Linked DNA regions of Homo sapiens: region 2 is linked to region 1. The links come from fine-mapping of genetic effects on gene expression. A gene starts in region 1. The other region holds a variant in brackets. All regions are shown on one strand. Distances are from middle to middle.

Region 1 (3,017 bases):
CAGAATTCAGTATGTTACACGAATCCAGCCTTTTAGTGGTTGAAAACAAAGCAAAACAGCCGGGCGCGGTGGCTCACACCTGTAATCCCAGCACTTTGGGAGGCCGAGGTGGGCGGATTGGGCGGATCACGAGGTCAGGAGTTCGAGACCAGCCTGACCTACATAGTGAAACTCTTTCTCTACTAAAAATACAAAAAATTAGCCGGCCGTGGTGGCGGGCGCCTGTAGTCCCAGCTACTCGGGAGGCTGAGGCAGGAGAATGGCGTGAACCCGGGAGGCAGAGCTTGCAGTGAGCCGAGATCACGCCACTGCACTCCAGCTGGGCAACAGAGTGAGACTCTGTCTCAAAAAGCAAAAAAGAAAACGAAGCAAAACAAAAAGCAATACCAGCCGGGCGTGGTGGTGCACGCCTGTAATCCCAGCTATCCGGGAGGTTGAGGCAGGAGGATCGCTTGGGCCCTGGAAGTCGAGGCTTCAGTGAGCCATGATCGCGCCACTGCACTCCAGCCCTGGGCGACAGAGCGAGACCTTGTCTCCAAAAACAAACAAAACCACGCCCACACACTAACAACAACAACAAAACCAAAAAAAAACCCAAACAATACCAAGTGTGTACCATGACGAGAAAAGGAATAGGTTGTTTGTAAAATAAATGTTAAAGATAAGTAACTATTACCCATTTCTCCAACCAGTATACTTGACTTTGAGTGTTTGTTCCAGAGTTGAGGGGATGGAGAGGGATGTGTATGTGTGTAGATGCCCTCCATGCGCTGTGTTGAAAACGCGCGGGTGACTGCAGGAAACCACAGAGCACAGCTCGGGCCTCTACTGATCGGGAAACGTCGGAAGACAGAAAAATGGGCAATCATAAAACCCACGGCAACCATGAAGACACGCACTCTCCCCCTAGCAATCCCACCCCGGAATTGAGGACACAGGGTCCCCGCGCTCAGCCCTTGGTGCCAGCACTTCTTGGACACCTCAACCCCCTCAGCTAAACCTGAGATCCAAGCGCTCCGGATTCCAAACGTTTCCTCGAGCAGGTCCTCTCTAGCCGGCCGCTTATCTATGGTTTCTGCTATAGGGCGCTCTAGCCTGCGCCAAGGGGTAGTGAGACCGCGCGGCAACAGCTTGCGGCTGCGGGGAGCTCCCGTGGGCGCTCCGCTGGCTGTGCAGGCGGCCATGGATTCCTTGCGGAAAATGCTGATCTCAGTCGCAATGCTGGGCGCAGGGGCTGGCGTGGGCTACGCGCTCCTCGTTATCGTGACCCCGGGAGAGCGGCGGAAGCAGGAAATGCTAAAGGTAGAAGCAACTGGTAGTCCCGAGGAAGGGTGGGCGGGTGGAGAGCCCCGGACTGGAGCTCCTGCGAACTCCCCTTCCTGCCCTCAGGAGATGCCACTGCAGGACCCAAGGAGCAGGGAGGAGGCGGCCAGGACCCAGCAGCTATTGCTGGCCACTCTGCAGGAGGCAGCGACCACGCAGGAGAACGTGGCCTGGAGGAAGAACTGGATGGTTGGCGGCGAAGGCGGCGCCGGCGGGAGGTCACCGTGAGACCGGACTTGCCTCCGTGGGCGCCGGACCTTGGCTTGGGCGCAGGAATCCGAGGCAGCCTTTCTCCTTCGTGGGCCCAGCGGAGAGTCCGGACCGAGATACCATGCCAGGACTCTCCGGGGTCCTGTGAGCTGCCGTCGGGTGAGCACGTTTCCCCCAAACCCTGGACTGACTGCTTTAAGGTCCGCAAGGCGGGCCAGGGCCGAGACGCGAGTCGGATGTGGTGAACTGAAAGAACCAATAAAATCATGTTCCTCCACCCAGAATGAGCCCTGCAGTCGACACCTACCAATGCTTAGAGACGCGTGGTCGGTGCTGGGGGCGCGGCCTGGAGCTGCTGCCTGTCCCACCCCACCAGAAGAGGCTGATCCCGATAGGTATCTGACCACATTTTTTTTTTTTTTTTTTTTTTGAGACGGAGTCAATGTCACCCAGGCTGGAGTGCAGTGGCACGATCTCGGCTCACTGCAACCTCCGCCCCTGGGTTCCAGCAATTCTCCTGCCTCAGCTTCCCGAGTAGCCGGGATCACAAGTGCGCGCCACCAAGCCCAGCTAACTTTTGTGTTTTTAGTTGAGACAGGGTTCACCATGTTGGCTAGACTGGTCTCGAACTCCAGACCCAGGTGATCCGCCCGCCTCGGCCTCCCAAAGGGCTGGGATTACAGGCGTGAACCACCTCGCCCTGCCGCGGCCACATTTTTTCTTTTTTTTGAGATGGAGTCTTGCTCTTGTCACCCAGGCAGGAGTGCAGTGGCGCAATCTTGGCTCACTGCAACCTCTGCCTCCTGGGTTCAAGCTGTTCTCCTTACTCAGCCTCCCATGTAGCTGGGATTACAGGCGTCCGCAACCACGCCCGGCTGATATTAGTAGTTTTAGTAGAGGCGGGTTTCACCATGTGGCCAGGCTGATCTCGAACTCCTGACCTCAGGCAGTTCACCCGTCTCAGCCTCCCAAAGTGCTGGGATTAGAGGCGTGAGCCACTGCGCCCGGCCAACCACATTTTCAAAACAGGTCATGTGGTGTCAGGTTGGAGTGTACTTCCAGGGATAACCGTGGGACATTCTTGAAATCTGAACTATCCTGGGAAGTCTTGAAGTAATGGATGCCTATAGTGGACACTCAGGACTCCTGTCCTTGGAGCGAGATTGGAGGGGCATCTAGCACTTAACATATGCCACAATGCTTTCTGTGGCCATTATTTAACCTCTGGTTAAACAAGCTTAGGAGGCTGACTTACTAGTAGTAAAAGGAGTGTGCTTTGAGTCACAGATCCTGGTTGAACTCCAGCATGTTACAAACCTCAGCCCTGTTCTATGAAAGGTCATAACTACGAGGATTATTGTAAAACATTAATTTAGAAATGTAAAGTGGTCCCCAATCTCTGGATCTGGTCAGGATTTATTGGAGCTGCCACTGAGGGGATTAAATAAGTGGGGTCAAAGCCCCACAGCCTAGTCAACCAAGTT
Region 2 (2,500 bases), 27 kb before region 1:
GAGTGCAATGGCACGATCTTGGCTCACCGCAACCTCTGCCTCGCGGGTTCAAGCAATTCTCCTGCCTCTGCCTCCCAAGTAGCTGGGATTACAGGCGCGTGCCACCACACTCGGCTAATTTTGTATTTTTAGTAGAGACGGGGTTTCTCTGTGTTGGTCAGGCTGGTCTCGAACTCCCAACCTCAGGTGATTCGCCAGCCTCGGCCTCCCAAAGTGCTGGGATTACAGGTGTGAGCCATCGTGCCCGGCTGACACCACATTTTAAACATGCTCTCCCAGTGACACTGATATGGGCAGAATACGAGCATACTCTGAGAAAGTGTTTCAAACTGGGGGTGGGAGGGTTCTTCTAAGCAATAAAGTTTTACAACCAGCCAGGCACAGTGGCTCACGTCTATAATCCTAGCACTTTGGGAGGTCAAAAAGGGAAGATTGGGCAACACAGCAAGACCTCGTCTCTACTTAAAAAAAAAAAAGAGTAGCAAGGCATGGTGGCAGGTGCCTGTAGTCCCAGCTAATCAGGAGGCTGAAGCCGGAGGACTGCCTGAACGCAAGAGTTTGAGGCTGCATGAGCTACGATTGCACCACTGCTCTCCAGCCTGGGCCACAGCACAAGACTCTGTCTCAAAAAAGTAAATTAATTAAGACTGGTCAATGGGGTGTCTACTAAAAATACAAAAATTAGCTGGGCACGGTGGCACACGTCTGTAATCCCAGGACTCGGGAGGATGAGGCAGGAGAATCGCTTGAACTCGGGAGGTGGAAGCTGGAGTAAGCCGAGATTGCACCCCTGCACTCCATCCTAGGCAACAGAGCGAGACCCTGTTTCAATAAGTAAACAAACAAATAAATAAATAAATAAAATTTGACAACCTATAATAAGGTAACTAAAGACAGGGTCTATTATACACATTGTATCTAGTTATCTAGCATTAGCTTCAGCATCTGCTTGAAAGCTAAAAGAAAATTACCAGAAATGAGATCACAGAGTGTACTATGATCTCATCACAGGACTCTCCTCCAGCTCCAGAGGAATGTACGAAACAACTGTTCCACAGCAGGCCAGACAGAAAAATGAAGAAAACACTAGGCACTGTGGTTTAATAGGCCAAGCAGAATAAATGCTACCACAAAACTCCATAGCAAGGCATGCGGCACAGGTCCTGCAGTGAGTGACCTGAGTGACTGCAACAGGCACTCTTGGCCACTGACCCACGTCCACCTGCCAAAAGCAGCAGTAAATAGAAGTACAGTGAGTTGAGGCCGGGCGCGGTGGCTCACGCCTGTAATCCCAGCACTTTGGGAGGCCGAGGCGGGTGGATCACGAGGTCAAGAGATCGAGATCATCCTCACCAACATAGTGAAACCCCGTCTCTACTAAAAATACAAAAAAATAGCCAGGCGTGGTGGCGGGTGCCTGTAGTCCCAGCTACTCGGGAGGCTGAGGCAGGAGAATGGCGTGAACCCAGGAGGCGGAG[C/T]TTGCAGTGAGCCGAGATCTCGCCACTGCACTCCAGCCTGGGCAACAGAGCGAGACTCTGTCTCTCAAAAAAAAAAAAAAAAGACGTACAGTGAGTTAAATACCCTCTGGGGCCCTATTTGCACAGTCTGTAAAATTGGTTCGGAAAGATGCCAATGGAGATAGGATTCCTAAAGCATCTTTCAGATATGACCTGTTGGAGGGCCCTAAGGAATTCACGGCGGCCTTGACCACCCCAAGAGAGGTGTTCATAGGCCAAAGTCAGGAATAAGCTGCAGGGCAAGTTGCACGCATTTATTGTTTCAGATCACAGGCTCCGAGGGAACTGAGTTTATGATCCACGCTTTCTTCATCGCTTTGGAGAGTACACGCCTACCCCACCCCAGTATATCCGTTAGGTCCTAGTAAACATTTGTGGCACTGGTGATATGTTTCGAATCTTTTTTTTTCCCCAGTAATATAAACCCGAGAGCGTGGACCAAGCCATTCGATTACATGTTGTGTTTGAGCAACACCATCCACGCCGTGAGCTTACTGGACCCTGGGCCGTGCCCAGCGACCGTGGACACTGAACTAAGCCAGAGCTGGTGCTCACGTGAAGACAAGGGCAGAGGAGGATTCGGAGCTCTACAGGGTAGAGCCAGAAGGGTAGTACAGGCTTAACTGCTGGCCCGGTGCTTCCAGCTCAGCCGAGGGGCCGCGGGGCCGCAGGCTGCATTCCCCGAGGCCAGGCCGCATCTTTTCCCCCGCCCCGACGACCCCGCGCACTGCAGGAAGGGGGCGGCGACGTTGACCGCCGCAAGCAGCCAAAGGAGGGCGGCGGCTGAGAGCGGCCAAGACCAAGAAAGACGCACAGCTGTGGCTTTACTAAACCGCCGGGCGGGAGCCCGGAGCCCCACAGGCAAGGCCCCCAGCGTCGCTCGGATCTACCACGGGGAGACCGGAGGCGTCTGAGGCCGCCTCCAGAGGAACAAAGGTTCCTCACGAGGCCGGGGGTGGCAGAGTGTCAAGAGACACACAGGA

Evidence for each region. PIP is the estimated chance that this variant, and not a neighbour inherited with it, causes the effect. A credible set is the group of variants that fine-mapping cannot tell apart.
Region 2: its variant is the best candidate, but not a certain one, in a credible set for the expression of LBHD1 in whole blood (INTERVAL, PIP 0.79).

What each region holds. Positions count from the first base shown.
Region 1 is chr11:62,670,564-62,673,580 of GRCh38, forward strand. It overlaps LBHD1 (LBH domain containing 1), which reads right to left and starts at 1,704. Exons shown (of 7, transcript NM_024099.5): 1 at 1,001-1,704. It overlaps UQCC3 (ubiquinol-cytochrome c reductase complex assembly factor 3), which reads left to right and starts at 1,110. Exons shown (of 2, transcript NM_001085372.3): 1 at 1,110-1,302; 2 at 1,390-3,017. The coding sequence starts at 1,183. The coding sequence ends at 1,551. RefSeq lists enhancers at 1-535, 536-1,275, 1,276-2,017, 1,384-1,543 and a silencer at 1,784-1,913.
Region 2 is chr11:62,643,994-62,646,493 of GRCh38, forward strand. The region is part of intron 1 of GANAB (glucosidase II alpha subunit); the gene reads right to left. Among named protein-coding and RNA genes, the nearest start is that of GANAB, 1.4 kb to the right of the region's middle. RefSeq lists enhancers at 819-1,626, 1,942-2,101. The variant C/T (reference allele first, on the strand shown) is at 1,479.